Homo sapiens: one gene and its partner. The protein of the gene in region 2 interacts with the protein of the main gene of each other region in a pairwise test. Each region holds a gene or a part of one and is shown on either strand. Other genes may lie near its edges.

The links.
Region 1: the proteins of MOCOS (region 2) and PARVA interact in binary tests that used the Homo sapiens proteins (3 or more experiments, as listed by UniProt).

What each region holds. Positions count from the first base shown.
Region 1 is NC_000011.10:12,512,516-12,522,898, forward strand, and holds part of PARVA (alpha-parvin), read left to right. Parts: intron 1-783; coding exon 784-845; intron 846-1,481; coding exon 1,482-1,550; intron 1,551-5,094; coding exon 5,095-5,196; intron 5,197-5,929; coding exon 5,930-6,002; intron 6,003-10,383. UniProt on the Homo sapiens protein: Plays a role in sarcomere organization and in smooth muscle cell contraction. Required for normal development of the embryonic cardiovascular system, and for normal septation of the heart outflow tract.
Region 2 is NC_000018.10:36,196,264-36,206,646, forward strand, and holds part of MOCOS (molybdenum cofactor sulfurase), read left to right. Parts: intron 1-2,426; coding exon 2,427-2,493; intron 2,494-3,419; coding exon 3,420-4,061; intron 4,062-6,849; coding exon 6,850-6,926; intron 6,927-8,813; coding exon 8,814-9,013; intron 9,014-10,383. UniProt on the Homo sapiens protein: Sulfurates the molybdenum cofactor. Sulfation of molybdenum is essential for xanthine dehydrogenase (XDH) and aldehyde oxidase (ADO) enzymes in which molybdenum cofactor is liganded by 1 oxygen and 1 sulfur atom in active form.

The DNA of each region.
Region 1 (10,383 bases), on a different chromosome or scaffold from region 2:
TGTCACCTCTCAGTTCTGAGAACACGGAGGCTGCAGCAAGGAGAATCCCTGCAGGGAGCATGGCTTTGCTATTTTCTATGATCCTGATATTTACTGTGGGTAATATTTTGAAATATTTCAATCATGCTAAAAATTATTCACTTCAGGAGAACATGTCAGAGTTTACAGAGCACGCACATGCTTGTTCTCACACTTCATCCTCATGACAAACCTGAGGGAGGGTTATTTTTAAAATGACATTTTATAGAAGAGGAAACTAAGGCACAAAGAGTTGAAGTGGCCTAGATCACTTAAGAGGAAGAGCTCATATCCCATCCTGGAGCTCCCTGGCTCCCAGCCCTCTTCTCTGTGCCCTCTGCCAGCTTGTTTGTCATGGGTCTCCTGTTTTTGAAAATTGGGGGGTGAAATTATTTAATATTTGGATAACATTCTCCCTCTACAGAGGTTCAGAAACACCTGAACAATAGCTACGTTAGGATATAATGGAATACAATGAAGGGAAATGACTAATCCCGGGTCACACTACCTAAAAGAGCCCTGAGCCTGCCCCAATCCAATAATGTACACATGCACGGACACAGACACAGGCTCCCAGGGTGAGAATCACCCCAAATCTTAGCCCCAAATCACATTCCAGAGTTCCCGGCACAGTCTATACCCCAGAGGCTTCCCATCGGTAGTTGACCTTGTGACCTTGAGAGGCGCGTGGCTCTGGGACCCAAGGTGGGCTTCCCTGCCAGGGATCAGCTCTTGTGCTCCACATTGTGTTTCCCTCTTTTTCAGAACGTGATGCCTTTGACACCTTGTTCGACCATGCCCCAGACAAGCTGAATGTGGTGAAAAAGGTGGGAAAGGGGTGCCTGGGATGGACAGAGGGAAGCGAGATGCAACAGAACATTGGGAAAACCCATCCCTGCAGCTTGCGAGCTTCCTGCCAGAACTGGTGGCATCACCTAACCTCTGCACACACAGGGCTTTCCCCCTTGCCATCCATGTACCTGTCTGTTCCTCACTGGATGTTGCACCTGGGCCTTTTCCCCTCCATCAGCATGAACAGCCTGTCTTCCCACCCAGGCTAACCCCAGCAATCTCAGCCTTCCCCACTCCTCACAGAATTCCCTGTCTCCCTGGCCTAGGCACCTGTGCCGAAGAAGGGACAGGAAGGAGAGATCCAGTGGAATCATTTTATTTCAGTTCCCCCACCCAGACACTGGCTCAGACACTCCACCTATCATTCTGCCTCTTGGGACCTCCTTGTTCCTTACACGCCCTGAGTTGTATGGGACTGCAAAGTCGAGCCTGTGGCCCTCCCTGTGCACTCAATGGCCTTTGCAGAGAGAGCTCCTGGGCCCAGGGCTCTTGGCTGGGCCTGATCCTCTGCTTTCACCCTCACCCTTGCCCTCACGGGAGTCACGGAGCAGCCACAGGCTCCTGCACTAGTGCGAGTCCCCAGCTTAGGGCCTGCTTTGCTTCTCTTTTAGACACTCATCACTTTCGTGAACAAGCACCTGAATAAACTGAACCTGGAGGTCACAGAACTGGAAACCCAGGTGGGTGACAGACCCCAGCACAGGTAGAGGCAGGGCCCTGCCCTACAGCCCCTGTTCCAAGTGGCCCACCACACTTGGCCAGGAGGGCTTTCCCAGCTGAGGGGGATGAGGGCATGGGAATCTGTCCTACTCTGAGGGGTGGACTGAGTCTCTGTGGATTTTTTCCAACTTTTTATTATGAAAATTACAAGAATGAATACTCATATACCCTTCACTGGGATGCACCGATTGTTAATATTTGGCCACACCTCTCTCTCTTTCTCTGCACCCCTAAATGCTTGAGCATATGTCTCTCAAGAACAAGCACATTCTCTTAGGTAACCACAACACAATTATCAAAGGCAGGCAGTTTTAACATAATACATTAATCTGTTTAGATTGAATCATATGAAATTGCTGACATTCGACTGTTTTTGTTTTCTGTTTTGTTTTGTTTTTTGAGATAGAGTTTCACTCTTGTTGCCCAGGCTGGAGTGCAGTGGCAAGATCTCGGCTCACTGCAACCTCTGCCTCCCAGGTTCAAGCGATTCTCCTGCCTCAGCCTGCCAGGTAGCTGGGATTACAGGCATGCGCCACCAAGCCCGGCTAATTTTTTGTATTTAGTAGAGACGGGGTTTCACCATGTTGGTCAGGCTGGTCTCAAACTCAGACCTCAGGTGATCCACCCACCTTGGCCTCCCAAAGTGCTGGGACTATAGGCATGAGCCACCGCACCCAGCTGACTGTTCTTAACCTACTAAAATGGCAACATCATGTGGTTAGAAAAAACACTCTGTTCAGATTTTGCCAGTTGTCCAGTTTGCTCACATGCTGCATTTACTTGTCATGTCTCTTTAGTCTCTTTTTAACGTAGAACAACTCCTCGGCCTTTCTTGTTGTGGCACTGACACTTTTTGAAGTGTTCAGGCCAGTTGGTTTATAGACTGTCTTTTCTGCACATATTAGATTCAGGTCATGCATTTTCATTAACAGCACGTCCCAAGTAAGGCTGTGTTCTTCCCGGGGCATCCCAGGAGGAGGCACTCTGTCCATTAGTCCCACTGCTAGTGATAACTTGGATTATTTGGTTAGGATGGTGTTCACCGGATTTCCCTATTATAAAGTTATTTTTCCTCTCTTTATACTTAACTAATCTTTATTGGGGAGATATTTTGAGCCTGATGAATCCTGTTTCCCCACCTCCTTTCATTCTTGGTGAGCTTCTGCCTTATACTTCTCTTTCAGTCATCTGGGTACCTCCTTTTATTTTAAAGACAAATGCCAGCCTGTCGCTGAGCTCCACCTGAGTGTGTCTAGACTGTGTGAAATGAGCTTCATGTACTCTTGTAGGAAATAAGGAATGTTCTGGAAAAGTGACGCTTCCTTGAGTGAGCTAGAATGGGCCCTGGAATGATCAGCTCCGTTTTCAAGGGCAGGGAGTGCTATGACAGGGGTCACTGCCAAGCACTTTGGGTCTCTACAGTTTTATCTACTATTCCTACCAAGTCAGTGGAACCAGCCATGGGAGGTGAGGAGCAGTCTAAGCCTGGCACTCAGAGCTGTGAATGACCCCAACCCTAACCCAAGGTCACCCCTGAGCTCACAGATTGGATTCTTTTACTCCTAACTCCTTCTCACCACAGCTTGAATGAAGCCCAGTTGCTCAGCTCCCACCAGAAGGGCCTTGATTTTGACAGACTCTGGGGTCTGCTCTCCCGTGTCCACCTAGGGTGAGTCATGCTCAGGCCGTTCCCACCTGAGTTGCAGGCCTGATGGATAGAAGCTGGGAGGAGCTACCCTTTTGTTTTTGAGACAGGGTCTTACTCCTGTCATGCAGGCTAGAGTGCAGTGGCACGATCACGGCTTACTGCATCCTCAACTTCCCAGGCTCAGGTGATCCTCCCACCCCAGTCTCCTGAGCAGCTGGGACTACAGGCATGCACCAACATACCCGGTTAATTTTTTTGTATTTTTAGTACAGACAGGGTTTCACCATGTTGCCCAGGCCAGTCTGGAACTCCTGAGCTCAAGCGATCCGCCTGCCTCAGCCTCCCAAAGTGCTGCGATTACAGGCATGAGCCACCGCACTCGGCCAGAAGCTGCCTTTAAGGCAAGCGCAAGCTCAGGGTCTTGTGCCCTTAATGACGGCTGAGCCGCAGGCCGGCTAGCTGGCTACCTGGAAAGCTCTCTGAGCAGACTCTGGGCTCCTAAGGTGATTCCAAGAAATGTGGCCTTCTCTAAACCCCAGCAGCTATATACACTCATAAACATTTGGTGGCCCAGCCTCCTTTGAAAGGGTTCTAGAATGTCGGATGTGCATCTGACCTCTATGTCTTTGCTAGGCCATCCCCCCTACCTGGAACCCCCTACTCCTCCCAAGGTCCATCATCCCCGGCCTCCACAAGCCTGTCCTGAGCCCTCAGTGTATGCTCACTTCACCCAGCCCTAAGCAGAAGACCAGCAGCCTCCGCACTTAGCTGAGGGACTCTCCTGTCCCTTGGGCCTGGTTTCCCAACCCATCTGGCCTCTTCTGCCTAGGAAGGGACCGGGCTGCAAGCCTCCTGCCAGGGCCCTCAGCACATAGTTCTGCTTTTGCCAGCAAGAGCAAGTAAGTCATGTCCTGATTGCTTTGTTGTTTTCCCAGACAGTAATAGCAACATTTAATATTTATTCAATGCTACATGCCTAGCAGTTTACAGGCCCTCTCTGCATATTTAACTGGCTTAGTCCTCACGATAACTCTGTGACATAGATACTATTCTATTACCATCCCTGTTTTACAGATAAGACATATGAGTACAGAGAAGTGACATAACTTGCCCAAGGCATATAGCTAGTAGGTGAGAGAGCTGGAATTTGCACCTGGGAGGCCTGGCCCCAGAGCCCACATTCATAACAGCTGCACTCTGCTGCTGTAATACTGAAGAGAGATGGGAGAAAGAATGCCCAGCCCTGTGTGACACTAGTCCTTTCTCTGTTCAGAAAGCACAGATCTCCCCAGGAACCTCATGCCATTCACCTTGGACATCACCTCCCCCTCCTCCCTCTGTCCCACTCTAGCCAATCCTGCTCATCCTCAGCTCTCCACTCAGGCTCTGTCCCCTCCAGAAGACTCCTCTGATGCCTTCAGTGCTTGTGGGCGACCTTTCTCAACCTCACTCAGGCCAGCGAGCTTCCTTCCATCAGAGCAGCTGTGCCTTGCCCCCACACCAGTTTCCCTATTAGACTGTGTACTCCTCCAGGGCAGGAGCCACACTGACCACCCCCCACCCCCCACCCCCCACCATGCTCTGGTCCCCATGCCTAGACCAGGAGTTGGTACACAGCCTCTGTTCAGTAAATGCTGGGTCAGCTGAGATCAGGGCCTGGGCTTGTGGCTCCTGTGCCAGCCAGACGTGGGGCAGAGCAGACCTCCTTGTCTCGGGCCACTGCCCCTACCCCCGAGCTAGCAGCCTGGCTGGGGTGGTAGGCTTCAGGTGGCATAGCACAGAAGTTGATGGGCCCCCTGGATGGGGATTGGCTGGGAGGCTCAGGGGCCAGTGCCATCACCTGGCTCTTCCTCCAGTTTGCAGATGGGGTGTACCTGGTGCTGCTCATGGGGCTCCTGGAGGGCTACTTTGTGCCCCTGCACAGCTTCTTCCTGACCCCGGACAGCTTTGAACAGAAGGTAAGGAGAAGGGACATCAAGGGAGGCCCCCTAGCCCACATCCCCTGACTCATGTGCCCACACCCATGCTGGGGCTATCCAGAAAAAAGGCAGAAGCTTCCCCTCTGCTCAACGTCTTCAGTGCCTGGAGGTGGGACCCATTATAAGAGCTGAGCTGGGAAGGAGCTACCTGCAGACCACTGGGCATCCCTGACTGCCTTTCCCTTGCCCTGAAGCCTGGCCCGGGTCCCCTGCCCTGTGTCCCTGTCAAGTGCCCCAGCCCAGCCTCCTCTCTCCCCAGAGATGACAAGGAAAGTGACTGTGAAGCTGGTCAGCCCTGAGGCTCATGCTTAGCCTGGTTCTGATGGCCTCTCGTAGGCTGCCACATCCTGCTCGCTACACAAAGGCATTTGACCAGAAAGCCTGCTCTGCCTGTTGAACATGTCCTGCCATCTGATTCTTCCAGACGTGTGCACTGACACCCCCAATTTGAAGTCCTGGCAGTTTACACAGGAACACAGTAGGATATGAAGGGAGTTTTGTGCTTCTCCAGGAGTGCTTCTCCCAACAGCAAGCTAGGATCAGCTAGCTCACGCTCCAGGTGGCCTGCCCATTTTGGTAGCCATATTTCTCCTTGAAATTAGTTCAGCCTCTGTCCCTCTGGCTACAGTGCTGGGCTCCTTCACTTCCCAGGGCCAGGTCCTGGGGCTCCTGGGTGTGCAATGGTACATGCTGTCTGCATCTCTCTTGCCAGGTCTTGAATGTCTCCTTTGCCTTTGAGCTCATGCAAGATGGAGGGTTGGAAAAGCCAAAACCGCGGCCAGAAGGTACTTTGCTCTTTCCTGGGTTTGTGACAACAGAGTGAGACCCTCTCCCTGCACATGAGTACTCAGATTTTGTAGCAGAGGGAAGCATTTTCTGAAGCCTTCGTTGCTGGGGAAGGTGGGACTCGGTGCAGCTGCTCAGTCCCAGAGACCCTTTGTGAGCTGCCAGCTGCACAGCCAGGGGAAGAAAAGAATCTGAAATCCCACACATGCCATGCGTGGGATCGCGGGGATCAGGGACCGAGCAGAACTGCTGCTGCAGGAACTGCCCTGTGCCCAATTTCCAGGTTTTCCTGTCCCTGCACAGGGTGCTGACCTGCCAAAGAGCTGTGTCCCCGCCAGTCGGGGTGAAGGTGCAGCGCAGACAGTTCTGGGCTGAGCAAAACTGCTTCTCTCCTTACAGATGCGGAGCTCTGCCTGCTCAGACTCTGTCTGAGGACAGGCCATGATTTGTGGGGTTTGGGTTGTAAATATAAGTCTGAGGGGAAATGCAGAAGGGACAAGTGCTTCTGCAGCCCCTGCATACTCCTGCTAGGAGTGCACACGTGCATTCGTGAGCAGAGGAGGCACGCTTCTCTTAGTAGTCTTGGTACGGATGATTGCTTTCTGCCCCTTACTGACTGAAGTATTCCATTTCACCAGAGCTGGCAGGTCACCACTGTGTTGCAGATAATCTCCTGCATATGTCCCCTGGGAACACTGAGAATGCCATCTGTGGCCCTTTTGCTCGCACTTTTCTGGTAGTTTATAGGCAAGTGGATGAGTAGGAATGGTGGGCTCTCATGCCCCCTTCCTGCCTCTGCTCTGAGCTCCTCTATCCAAACCCCCACCTAGTGGGGGCCATGCCCTGGTCTAGTGGGCTTGAGACCCTGTAGACCATGATATAACAAGAGGGGTAAGACCTTCCTGAACCTCAAGGCACGTGTAGCCAACCAGGGAAGAGAAAAGTTGGAGCCAGTTAGCAAAATGAAATGACAGTCATGGGAACTGTTACGAAAGAGGTACAAGGAAGAGTCTGTGAGGACTGAGGAGGTGATACCACTTCTGTCTTGGGGGAGGAACAGTTTGATGGAGACAGTGGGGCTCAACCATAAGGACCAGGTAGGGCTTTGGTGTATGGAGACTGGGAGAGAAGTGTGTGCATGCCAGACAGAATGACAGCATGAGCAAAAGTCCCCCCGGGGAAGAATGGGGACCCTGTCTCATGACTCCTTCCAGACTCGTTATCTATTGACTCTAGCCAACAAAGGTCAACTCCTGTTCTCATTTATTACCACCTTGTCCTAAGCCCCTGGTCAACTGAGACCTGGGGGAGGACCTCTAGCAAGGCTGGTGTCCCCCTGGGGCTCTCTCTTTGGCAAGGCCACTCCAGCCTTCCTAATGCCATTAGGAATGGACTCTTCTTGTTCTGTGGGCAGATGATGAGCACCCTGCTTCTGGGAGGACAGACACAGTGAGAAAGTTCCGACCATCATTTTGCTTCCACTTTCTTCAACCACTTAATATGAAACTTCCTGGTTACAGATTGGAAGTACTTCTGCTATTTTAGAATTGGGATATTTCTTTCCCTTGGGACAGATAATTTTCCCAATATAAATCAATCTATGGGAATATTTTGGAATATAGGTGATATTTTTATGCAATTATTAAGTTGCTGAATGTGAAACTAACAGACTGATGTGGATGGAAAAACACGTGTTTTATTTGTTATGACACAGGGCATTATGCCCATGCTGCAAATTTCCAGTACGTAAAGGGGAATGGAAATAGCATTTTATGAAATTGTACTTTGAAAGAAGTGAATCCCAGCATTCCGTCTGGTTTTTATGCTTCTACCTGGAAAGTGAGATTTGGAAGTAAATGATGCAGACATTTCAAAGGGTGCCAATGTGGGTAATTCTTTGAGGGCATTTCAAAATCAAACTGGTTGTGGTGGAGGCATTTTTCATGGCAACATGTTTTTAAGGTCAGGAAAATGCATTCTCTGCTGTGCTGTTTAACACTCAAAGCTCTGTTGTGCCTTGAAATCCCCTAGAAACTGGGTTTGTATCTGAGATGACTTGCTGCCCAGGCTTCATGACCGTTTAGTGCCTGAGTTAGTGTAAGCCAAGGGTTAGCATCAAGTTCCTAACCAGTGGAGCAGTCGAAATAATGGCCAGGCATGGAAGCTCACACCTGTAATCCCAACACTTTGGGAGGCCAAGGTGGGCAGACGGCTTGAGCTCAGGAGTTTGAGACCAGCCTGGGCAACATAGTGAGACCCCACCTGTACAAAAAATACAAAAAAATTAGCCAGGTGTAGTGGTGCATGCCTGTGGTCCCAGCTCCTCGGGAGGCTGAGGTGGAAGGGATCGCTTGAGCCTGGGAGGCGGAAGTTGCACCACTGCACTCCAGCCTGGGCAACAAAGTGAGACCCTGTCTCAAAGAAAGGAAAAAAGGAAAGAAAAAGAAATATTGTCATGCAGCTGGCAGCTTTTTATTTAGGGCATCGTGCCACATGTCTTCAAATGCACATGTCCACCCTGTTATCACCTTTCAAGTAGACTCATCATCAATTATGGTTAAGACTCCAGAATAACAGGCAGGCAGGGACTCAGAAGACATCTAGTACCAGGCAGGATTGAAGTCTGTAGGACTAAATATCTAAAATTTAAGGAGTCTCATACCTGGGACCAGATGGCAAGCAATGCTGAAAAACCAAGCAGGTTATGGCAGCTTAGTTCCAGGTGATCACTTCATTTGGGGAAGACTTGGTCAGTGGCTGATAACATGGAAAATGTTCAACTCCCCCATTCCCCTAGGAGATAGTGTACAGAAGCCAATGGTGACAAACATTTAAAACTCTAATCATACCAAGTGTTAGCAAGGATGTAGAGCAACAGAAACTGCTGGTGTTCTAAATTGCTAGAACCATTTTATTTTTATTCAGTCCCTATTTAGCCGAAAGTAGAAAACAGTTTGTTCTCATCTAACATAGTTGAAGATTTGTAATACGCTATAAAATAATGTGGTAGACACCCCCTGCCAAAATAATGTGGTCTCCACCCCTGGCCAAAAACGTCCAGGTCCTAATCCTCGGTACCTGTTCATGTGTTATCTTACATGGCAAAAGGGACTTTGCAGATGTGATTAAATTTAGGGTCTTGAGATGATGACATTATCTAGGTGGTCCCAATGTCATCACAGGGGTCCTTATTATAAGTCGAAGTGGGAGGCAGGAGTGTGAGGGTGATGTAGCATAAGAAAGGCTCACCCAACCATTGCTGGCTTTGGGGATGGAAGAGGTCTATGAGCCAGAGAATGCAGGCAACCCCAGAGGGTTAGAACATGAGTAACTAACTGCCTTATGGCCACCTAACTTATTCCATCCCCCACTTGGAAAGAACAAGTGTAACGATCTCCATTTCGAGCCTCCAGAAAAAAATGCAGCTGTGCTGACACCGTGATTTTATCTCAGTGAGATGGATTTGGGGCTTTTGATTTCTAGAATTCAGAGATAATACATTTATGTTGTTTTTAGGCCACCAAATGTGTGCTAATTTACTACAGCAGTAATAGGAAGTTAGCACACTCCTTGACTTAGCAATTCCATTCATAGGTACGTATGTCCATACACCAGGAGACAAGCCCAAGAATACCCATGATAGCATAGGCTGGAGTGTACATCCCAGTAGACTAGCTACATAAATTGAAGCATATTCATATCATGGATTATAATACAACCATGACAATAAAAAAGACTGAACTGAGAAGTCAGGGCAGGAACTTCTAGTTACTGTAGCCTGAAGAGATCAGTGACTATTCTCTGCAAAAAAGCAAGTGTAAAACTGGACAAAAATCATCAAAACAATGATTTTGAAGCACTGAAAACCTACCAGAGGTAGACAACAAATCAAGAGCTTTATTCTTTTTTTTTTTTTTTTTCTTGAGACGGAGTTTCGCTCTCCAGGCTGGAGTGCAATGGCGTGGTCTCGGCTCACTGGAACCTTCCCCTCCCAGGTTCAAGAGATTCTCCTGCCTCAGCCTCCCAAGTAGCTGGGATTACAGGCTGCCACCACCACACCCAGCTAATTTTTGTATTTTTAGTAGAGACGGGGTTTCACCATGTTGGCCAGGCTGGTCTTGAACTCCTGATCTCAGGTGATCCGCCTGCCTCGGCTTCCCAAAGTGCTGGGATTACAGGCGTGAGCCACCCTGCCCGGCCAAGAAGCTTTATCCTTGAACAATTATAGAATTATAGTTGGATAATTATAGCTATACCTCAGTAAAACTGTTAAAAAAAAAAAAACAGACAGCTCATGTAACAACATAGATGAATCCTGTGAAATACAAAAAGAGGCAACATTTGAAGCTACTGTTCAAGGGCACGTATGTTGATGCTAGG
Region 2 (10,383 bases):
GATGAGAATAACGATAAGTAACATTTATCAGGTACTCGCTATGAGCTTTCTCTCTTCAGCCTCACAACAACCCAAGAGGCATAGGTTCTGGTATCACTCCTGTTTTATAGGTGAAGAAATGGGGCCCCAGAGAGGGCAAGTAACTAGCCTGAGGCTGCACAGGAAGGACTGGAGCTTGGAGGAGCTAGAAGCTGTGTTTGCAGGCAGTTTAGCTCCAGAGCCCAAGCCCTTAGCCTCCACCAGAGTGCCTCGATTCAGGATACTTCTGTTATGCCACATTAAGGGGTTTGGATTTTGGCTCTGGGCAGCCAGCAGATATTTAAATCTGGGGAACAGTCTTCTGGGAAGGTGCCAAGGAGGGATTTATCCTGATTTTAATCTGCAGTTTGCAAAGGTTCTTGTAATTCTCCTTCTTTAACCTTTGCAAGAGCCATAACCGTGGGAAAGCCTGAGAGATGGCAGAGTTGAGATTGCAGGTGGTGGTAATGATGCAGCGCTAAAGCCAAGCAGAGGAAAGGCAATGAGGATAATTACCAGGTCCCACAGGTTACTAGCAATGTGGAAACAGAACATATGGTAGCTGCAGTGGCCAGAAATCCAGTGCAATCTTTCAGTGTATTTTGGAGGAAAAAAAAAGTCTAAAACTAAAGGGCAAATTCTGCGTTAATGAGCACATGTAGCTCCTGAGAAATGCTGGTGCCTGGTCTTATAGGTCAGGCCCTACCAAAGCCTGTCTGGGGGTTAAGTTTGAGGGAGGTCATGATACTCTGGGACACATTTGGTGAGGACACCAGGAAGGGAGCAAAACTAGAAGTTAAGAGGAAGAGTGACATTGGGAGGAGGGCCTTCCTCCTTGAAAGTGGATGGCTAAGGGCAGCACAGTGGCCCCCTTCACATATTTGGAGGCCGGGATCAATTATTTCTGCAGGAAAGGCATCAGCAGTGGTGGTGGGATCTGCAGGGCAATACGTGGGGACTTAGATTAAGTGGCGTTCATGGCTCTGCTTCATGCTTGGAGAAAAGGGCATCCTCCTGAGGCTGTATACTGCATTCTCTGGAGTTAAACAGAGCCACAGCCACCTGTCTGGAACATGTAGAACAGACTCTTGCACTGGCCTGCTTCTGAGCTGACTTCCAGCTCTAAAATACTCTTCCCGATCACATTTGGTTTTACTAGTGAGGAGAGATTTTTTTTTTTAACTATATCATAAAATTTACCAGCTGGGTACAGTGTCTCAGGCCTATAATCCCAGTGCTTTGGTAGGTCAAGGTAGGAGGATTGCTTGAGCCCAGGAGTTCAAGACAACCCTGGGCAACATAGCAAGAGCCTATCTTTACAAAAAACAAAAATTTTAAAAAATCAGCCAGGTGTGGTGGCACATGCCTGTTGTGCTAGCTATTCAGGAGGCTGAGGCAGGAGGAGCCCTTGAGCCCAGGAATTCAAGGTTATAGTGAGCTATGATCAGCCACTGTACTCCAGCCTGGGTGATAGAGTAAGATTGTGTCTCTCTTAAAAAAAATCTATTTCAGGTGTCCAATGATGATTTTTTAGTGATTGACCTAGTGATGCAATCATCACTATAAATCAGTTAGATGTTTTCATTCCCCTGAAAAGATCCTTCATGCCCATTACAGCTAATCCTTGTTGCTGACCTTACCCCCAGGCAATTGCTAATCTACTACTTTCTGTATCTCTACAATTCTTTTGCTGGACATTTAATGTAAATTGATTCATGCATTATGTATATTCTTGTGTCTGGAGTATTTCATTTATCATGCTTTTGAAGTTCTTTCATGGCATAGCCAGTAGTTTGTTCCTTTTTATTGGCAAATAACTTCCCTGGCTGGGCACAGTGGCTCATGCCTGCAATCCTAGCACTTGGGGAGGCTGAGGCAGGAAGATTGCTTGAACCTAAGAGTTCAAGACCAGCCTGGGCAGCACAGTGAGACCTCATCTCTACAAAAAGTAATTTTAAAAAGTTAGCCAGGTGTAGTTGTGCACACCTGTAGTCACAGTTAGGAGGCTGAGATGGGAGGATCGCTTGAGCCCAGGAGTTTGAGGCTGCAGTGACCTATGATCATGCCACTGCCCTCCATCCTGGGTGATGGAGCAAGACAGAACAAAAAACCAAATCACTTTTTATTTTATGGATGTAGCATATTTTGTTTATCTGTTCACCCATTGATGGACATTTATATTGTTTCCAGAATTTGACTTTCTGAATAAAGCTACGAACATTCCCATGCAAGTCTGTATGGACATAAGTTTTCATTTTTGAGGGATAGAAATCTAGGAGTGGAATTGTTAGGTGATATGGTAGTTTTATGTTGAGCTTTTTGAGAAACTGAGGGAGTGGATTCAGAAGGAACACAAAAGAAGCGACCCTAAGTAGTGACTTGGTGGCCTTGTCTTTGTAACCTGCCAGGTAATCCTCACAGCCAGAACATCAGCAGCAAGCTCACCCATGACACTGTGGAGCAGGTGCGCTACAGGTAAGCATCAGGGACACCTGCCTGACTGGGCATACCTAGGCAGACAGACTTCCTTCCTAGGACTTGCCTGCATCCCACAAAAGTTCTGAGTTGGTTTCAGGAGGATCACAGTTGGCTAAAAGGCAATGCATGTATGTTGAGAAACATCAGAGTCAGAGCTCAGAAAGGCAGCGGTGAGTAGATGCAGTGTGGGGCAGATGAGACACACAGGTAGGTGGCTCTGAGGTGCACACAGCTGTTCTGTGTGGCTCCAGAGACTCTGCAGTGCCAAAGTGACAGGAAGTGACCCAGGATCCTAGGTCTTGTTTTCAGAAAGAAGAAAAGTACTATTTCTCTGGTTTTCCTTTTCATAAGAAGTTTTATTAGGCAACTTGTTTTCTTCCTGTCTTTTTTCCCTTTTCCCCCCTTTTTTACTAGTATTTGTATGTTAAACAGCTCTCTATACTTTCTAAACATAACAGTATCTGGCAAATAATTTCCAGGTTGTCCTTAAAATTATTAACACAATTTCCAATCACACAATTTCAAGTTAGTTCAAATGTGAAAGTGATACTGTTTTGCTATTAGAGTTGCCAAAACTAAAAGCAATGTAAACAGGTTGATTACTACTTAAACCTTGTTATGTTAGAGCTGAGCAGAAAGCACCAAGGAGAGAAAGTAGTATCAACTCTGATTAAGTTTATTGTGGATTTTTTGTCATACATATCCAATTGGAGATATCCAGTGATATTTGGGAGGTAAGAGGATTTTGCCAACTGGAACTCGTTCCCACGGCTTCCATTGCCCTCGCCCTAATTTCGCAGCTGTGGCAAACCTATCTATCCATTAAGGTAGAGATGTCATAGTTAATAGAAATAAAACAGCCTGCAAACATTCAGTGCTGGGGCTGAGATCCGCGGGTTGCGGGGATGCTGTGCTTCTTCCAGAATCCTGGCGCACTTCCACACCACCGCAGAAGACTACACTGTGATCTTCACTGCCGGGAGCACGGCTGCTCTCAAACTGGTGGCAGAGGCCTTTCCATGGGTGTCCCAGGGCCCAGAGAGCAGTGGGAGTCGCTTCTGTTACCTCACCGACAGCCACACCTCCGTAGTGGGTATGCGGAACGTGACCATGGCTATAAATGTCATATCCACCCCGGTCAGGCCAGAGGACCTGTGGTCTGCAGAGGAACGTAGTGCTTCAGCCAGCAACCCAGACTGCCAGCTGCCGCATCTCTTCTGCTACCCAGCTCAGAGTAACTTTTCTGGAGTCAGATACCCCCTGTCCTGGATAGAAGAGGTCAAGTCTGGGCGGTTGCACCCTGTGAGCACGCCTGGGAAGTGGTTTGTGCTGCTGGATGCAGCCTCCTACGTGAGCACCTCGCCTTTGGACCTGTCAGCTCACCAGGCCGACTTTGTCCCCATCTCCTTCTATAAGATCTTCGGGTTTCCTACAGGCCTGGGCGCTCTGCTGGTCCATAATCGTGCGGCTCCTCTACTGAGGAAGACCTACTTTGGAGGAGGGACAGCCTCTGCGTACCTAGCAGGAGAAGACTTCTACATCCCGAGGCAGTCGGTAGCTCAGAGGTAACCTTGCCACAGGGGAGGGGTCAGAGGAGTTCAGCAAGGTGGGGTCTGGCCTGTTTCTCCTGGAGGATTATGCAAGAGGTGGGTCTGGCTTTGAGGGTCAGCAGAATTCAGGTTGCTGGCAGGGACAGGCTGATGGCAGGGCTCAGATCTGGGAGGCAGAAGTTGACTGGAGGTGACACAGGTGTTCAGTGAACTCTACCCCCATTTGAGAGGCTTCTCCAGAGCTGTGAGAGGACTGGGGCCTGCAGATAAGAACTGCACACAGGAGAGATAAAAGGCCCTCATGGGGTAAGGAGGGTGAGCTACCAGGCCTCTGCCCTCAGCACTGACAAGAGGTTGCAACAGTTGAAACAGTGGCCTTAAAAGGTGGCACCCAGTGGCTTTAAAAGGTGGCACCATTTGGAAAAAGTCTGCCCACACATTGACAGCATAGCTGGTTCTCCAGGAGCTAGGATCAGCTCAGCCTGGCACCTAGTTAGCAGGAGGAATCAGTTAAAGCAGAGGCCCCCAGACTTGTGAGGCAGTGTTAGCGGCAACCTCTATGAGCCCCACTGTGAGTGAGTTACAGAGGGAGTCTGGGTGCAGGTTGTCACTTGCCCTCAAATGCCAGAGGCCTCTGCCTGGGTTGTTGGCATATGCATCATCCCCAGGCTGCAAGGGCAGGTGGTGTGGGTTATGCTCAGGACTCTTTCAAATGGTAACAGCTGGGACCTGTAAGGTCGAGTGTGTCAAGGCTGAAAATGGTGGCTGATCCAGGGTTCTGCTGGGTCAACAGTGGGGACACAGGGTTGGGTAGGCAACTAATCACCTCCAGGGTCCGGAGAAGGCCTGGGGCATAGACGGGAAGGGCTTTAGATCCCCAACAGACCCCACACAGACGCAAGGGTCCTGCACGTAGGGCCATGGCCTTGACGATAGAGTCAGTGTTAGCTGTGTAAGCCTCAGGCTGGACCACTGGGGAATGAGTCCCCGCTCCACTGCACACCAGCGAGGGGACATGTGACTTGTTCTCTGCACCTCATGTTTTTTCTGTAAAGTAGAAATGATAATATTGGGTCGGGTGTGGTGGCTCACACCTGTAATCCCAGCACTTTGGGAGGCCAAGGTGGGTGGATCATGAGGTCAGGAGTTCGAGACCAGCCTGCCCAACATGGTGAAACTCCGTCTCTACTAAAAACACAAAAATTAGCTGAGTGTGGTGGTGGGTGCTTGTAATCTCAGCTGCTCAAGAGATTGAGGCAGGAGAATTGCTTGAGCCCAGGAGGCAGACGTTGCAATGAGTCAAGATCATACCCACTGCACTCTAGCCCTGGTGACAGAGCAAGACTCCATCTCCAAAAAAAAAAAAAAAAGAAATGATAATATTGTCCTTTTAGAGCTAACATGGGTGAAGTATCAGAATGGTAGGGATCAATGTTAGGAGGCTATTTGATGCCTCTTTTATTTAGGACTTGTCCATAGTTGGGGGGCTTCTAAAACAGGAATGCTCATGTAAAACCTCTTGACTCCAAGTGTGATAATTTACCATGTAACAGAATCAAATGAGAAAAGAATGACAGGCATAACATAATGTAAGTTACAGGCAGAACAAAGCGACACCTCAAATTTAATTTGGCCAATAAGGGCACCTGAAGGCCAGGAGAAGTGGGGCAGCTCACTGGGGGCCAGGGCATGAATGGGCTGGGGGGGATCAGACCTCTTTCCTTTGATTCAGGTAGATGACTTTACAACAGATGACACGCCAACATTCCCAGAAAGCTGAATTTATTTATTTACCATTATAAGCCAATTTTTTTCTTGTGAACTTAGGACTAGAACTCAATAGATTTAATACTCAACCTAAAGGTTTATTGAATAAATACCTTGACTATGTTCTCAACTTTATTTTATAACTCAGCGAAGTACATCCCTTGACAGAAACAAAAAACTTTTATTTTAAGAAATCTATTAAGTATTTGATCAATAAATAATTGTCAATCAATAACTGGCTAGTTTAACAAATTTTTTTGTAGAGATGGGGTCTTGCTATCTAGAGATGGGGTCTTGCTTTTTGTAGAGATGGGGTGTTGCACAGGCAGGTAGTTTCAAACTCTTGGCCTCAAGTGATCCTCCCACCTGGGCCTCCCAAAGTGTTGAGATAACAGGCATGAGCCACTGCACCTGGCCACCCTAGGAAATTTAGAGCAGCCCAAGAAAACTGCAGAGTGGGTCAGGGCCAGAGGCAGCTGGACAGGTCTTGGTGTACAAAGTGCCCCCATCCTGAAGGGGAGAGCAATGTTTTATAAGACAGCAGAGGGAAGGTATTAATAGATTACAGCGGTATTAGTCCAATTTCACACTGTTATAAAGATACTACCCAAGACTGGGTAATTTATAAACAAAGGAGGTTTAATTGGCTCACAGTTCTGCATTGCTGGAGAGGCCTCAGGAAACTTACAATCATGGCGGAAAGGGAAGCAGGCACTTTCTTCACAAGGCAGCAGGAGAGACAGAGAAGAGCCCAGGGGAACTGCCATTTATAAAACCATCAGATCTCGTGAGAACTCCCTCACTATCACGAAATGAGAACAGCAAGGGGGAAACCATCCCCATAATCCAATCACCTCCTACCAGGTCCATCCCTCAACACCTGGGGATTACAATTAGAGATGAGATTTAGGTGGAGACATAAAGCCAAACCACATCAACAGCTAAGCCTAAAATCTAAAGCTCATTATATACCACGAAATGCACATGGATTGTTTTGACCACAGCTTGACCTGTTCTCCTTACCCCGTGGTTATAGGTTTGAAGATGGCACCATCTCATTCCTTGATGTTATCGCGCTAAAACATGGATTTGACACCCTAGAGCGCCTCACAGGTCAGTGGACATTTCTATCCCTGTGGAATTTGCTCCTGTTGTGTCCTTGAGGGAGCTCTGGCACAGGTGTGATTCAGGTAAAGGAGACAGAGTCTGTGGAAGTGACTGGCACTCCATGTAGTTAAATTTGATTCCTAGTAACTTCAAAACCACTTCAGAGAGCAAGAGAATGAGGTGGGGTTTTTGGATTGTTTTTTGTTTTTTCAGCTAAAATAACATTTTAACAGGTAGAAGACATTCCAAATCAGGAGATTGCTAGCTTCACAGAATGAGAGGAGCATCCCTGGGTCCTGGGAATGGTTACAGATCCTGAGGCCTTTACCTGCTCTTGCCTTTCTGGGTCCTCCCCACTGCCCCACGGGGGAGCTCTGCCTATGAATGAGCTGATGCTCAGAGAGGTTAAACGCCTTCCAGGCCAGGGAGCTGGAAACCAGGAGGGCAAGGATTTAACCCAAGTCATACTGATGCCTAACCATGAGCACCCAACCACTGTGTCTGCCGATGGTCTTCGCATGAGGCATGATTTCTTTCCTGGCCATTGCTCTTTTGTCACAGTAATGGGACCCTTCAGTGCCTTAACCTTAGCCTTAGCCCAACATAGGGGCAGACAGGATTCACGGGAAGAGAGGGTCGCCCTGATGGCAATGCAGGGAGGTGAGTGGGCATGATCTGGGACAAACGGAGTAGTTAATAAATACAGGCAGTGAGTAGTGAGTACTTTCCAAGGAAAGATATTAACAGGGCCCCCAAACTGCAGGTGACAGTGTCTAACAGGTCCAGGTAGCTCGGAATGCAAAGGTTGACTGTACCAGTCCACAATATGGCAAACCCTGATTTTTTTCCTATGTCATTGTTCCTTTTTTAAAAAATAAAAATTGTGGTAAACTATACATAACATAAAACTTACCATTTTAACTATTTTTAAGTGTACAACTCAGTCGTAGTAAATACATTCACAATGTCGTGCCACCATCACCACTATCTATTTCCAGAACTTTACCATACCAAACAGAAACTCTGTACCCATTAAACAATAACTCTCTATTTCCTCCTCCCCTTCCAACCCTTGGAACTACTTTTTTTTCTCTGTGGATTTGCCTATTCTTGGTAACTCATCTAAGTAGAATCATACGACATTTGTCCTTTTGTGTCTGGCTTCACTTAGCACGTTTCCAAGATTCATTCATGTTGAAGCATGTATTCTTCATTGCTTTGTGTAGTGTTAAAATGATTTAAACATTAATAATAAAAACAAACAGCAAAAATATGTTTAGAGGAAAAAACATACATTTTGTGATCTGTTACCAAAGGGTCTAAATATCTAAATGTTTAAGTAACATTATGTATAAAAAAGAGGATGACAGGAATGCCTATGGAAAAATTCTGTTGTTCAGTACTGAAGACCTAAACATTTGTCACAAGGGCAGTACCATCCACTATTTACACACATTTAAAATTATTAATGTGAGGTCCAGGTTTGCCAGTTATAACAAACTTGTTTTCTTAAAAGTGAGTTAGTGGTGCCAGGCGTGGTGGCTCATGCCTGTAATCCCAGCACTTTGGGAGGCTGAGGCAGGTGGATTACTTGAGCCCAGGAGCTCAAGACAAGCCTGGGCAACATGGTGAAACTCCATCTCTGCAAAAAATACAAAAATTAGTCAGGCATGGTGGTGAATGCCTGTCGTCCCAGCTACTTGGGAGGCTGAGGTGAGAGGATCACCTGAGCCCAGGAGGTTGAGGCTGCAGTGAGCTGTGATCATACCACTGCACTCCAGCCTGGGTGACAGAGTGAGTGAGACCGTGTCTCAAAAAAAAAAAAAAAAAAAAGAGTGAATTGAGAATTTACATAAAGCTCATGATTCTCTTGTGTTTCATGATTGATTTGAGGTGGAATGGAGAATATAAAGCAGCACACCTTCACCTTGGCTCAGTATACCTACGTGGCCCTGTCCTCTCTCCAGTACCCCAATGGAGCCCCTGTGGTGCGGATTTACAGCGATTCTGAGTTCAGCAGCCCTGAGGTTCAGGGCCCAATCATCAATTTTAATGTGCTGGATGACAAAGGGAACATCATTGGTTACTCCCAGGTGGGTTTTCTTTCCATCCTGCTGACTTTATTACAACTCATCCTAGTTCCAGACGAGAGCAATGTAGTGTGACAAAGTCCATGCACTGTTGAAGAGGCCACCAGGCCCTCAGCCACATGCCTTTCCACCTTCATTCACCCTCGTTTTTCAGTCCTCTTTACTCAGCCAAAAGTGGTAACTTTCAAATGGGAAGAAAGAGGCCAGTTCTTCTGATGGCAGGTGGGAAACTGTTGGGTCTTTGCCATAGTAGAATAAGCTGTTCACTTCACTTCCTGGTCCACTAAAATGTCCAGAGTTGCACTGAGCACTCAGGCATGGTGGTAGGTGGTTATCAGACGGGGTGTCACAGATGGACAACAGGAACCAAATGTTACTCCCAGAGCAGCACTGTGGGGAATGGATTCAATCGTTGGGTGTTTGGAAGACGGTGCTGGTTTTTCCTTGAAAGCACATCTGCATCCCCATTTTTATTTATTTTTTTGAGGTGGGGTCTCGCTCTTTCACCCAGGCTGGCATGCAATGGCATGATCTTGGCTCACTGCAACCTCCACCTCTTGGGTTCAAGCAATTCTCATGCCTCAGCCTTCCGAGTAGCTGGGATTACAGGCACACACCACCACACCTGGCTAATTTTTGTATTTTTAGTAGATACGGGGTTTCACCATTTTGGCTAGGCTGGTCTCAAACTCCTGACCTCAAGTGATCCACCTGTGTTGGCCTCCCAAAGTGCTGGGATTATAGGTGTGAGCCACTGTGCCTGGCCCACATTTTGTTTTTAACAAAGAAAAAAAGGTTTATTTGGCTCATGGTTCTGTTGACTGGAAGATTGGGCATTGGTGAACACCTTAGGTTGCTTCCACCTGTGGAGGAAGGCAAATGTGAACTGGTATGTGCAGCCAGAGAGGAAGCAAGAGAGAGGGTGAGGGAGGTACCTGGCACTTTATTTTTATTTTATTTTTTCTTCCAACTTTTTTTTTTTTTTTTTTTTGAGATGGAGTCTTGCTCTGTCACCCAGGCTGGAGTGCAGTGGCGTGATCTCAGCTCACTGCAACCTCCACCTCTTGGGTTCAAGTGATTCTCTCACCTCAGCCTCCTAAACAGCTGGGACTACGGACATGTGCCACCATGCCTGGCTAGTTTTTATATTTTAGTAGAGATGGGGTTTCACCATGTTGGTCAGGCTGGTCTTGAACTCCTGACCTCAGGTGATCTGCCCGCCTCAGCCTCCCAAAGTGCCGGGATTACAGATGTGAGCCACTGTGCCCGGCGTTCTTCCAACTTTTATTTTAGGTTCAGGGGATACATGTGCAGGCCTGTTACATGGGTACCTGAAAGGTAGTTTCTCAATCTTCCCCTCCCCCCACCTTCTA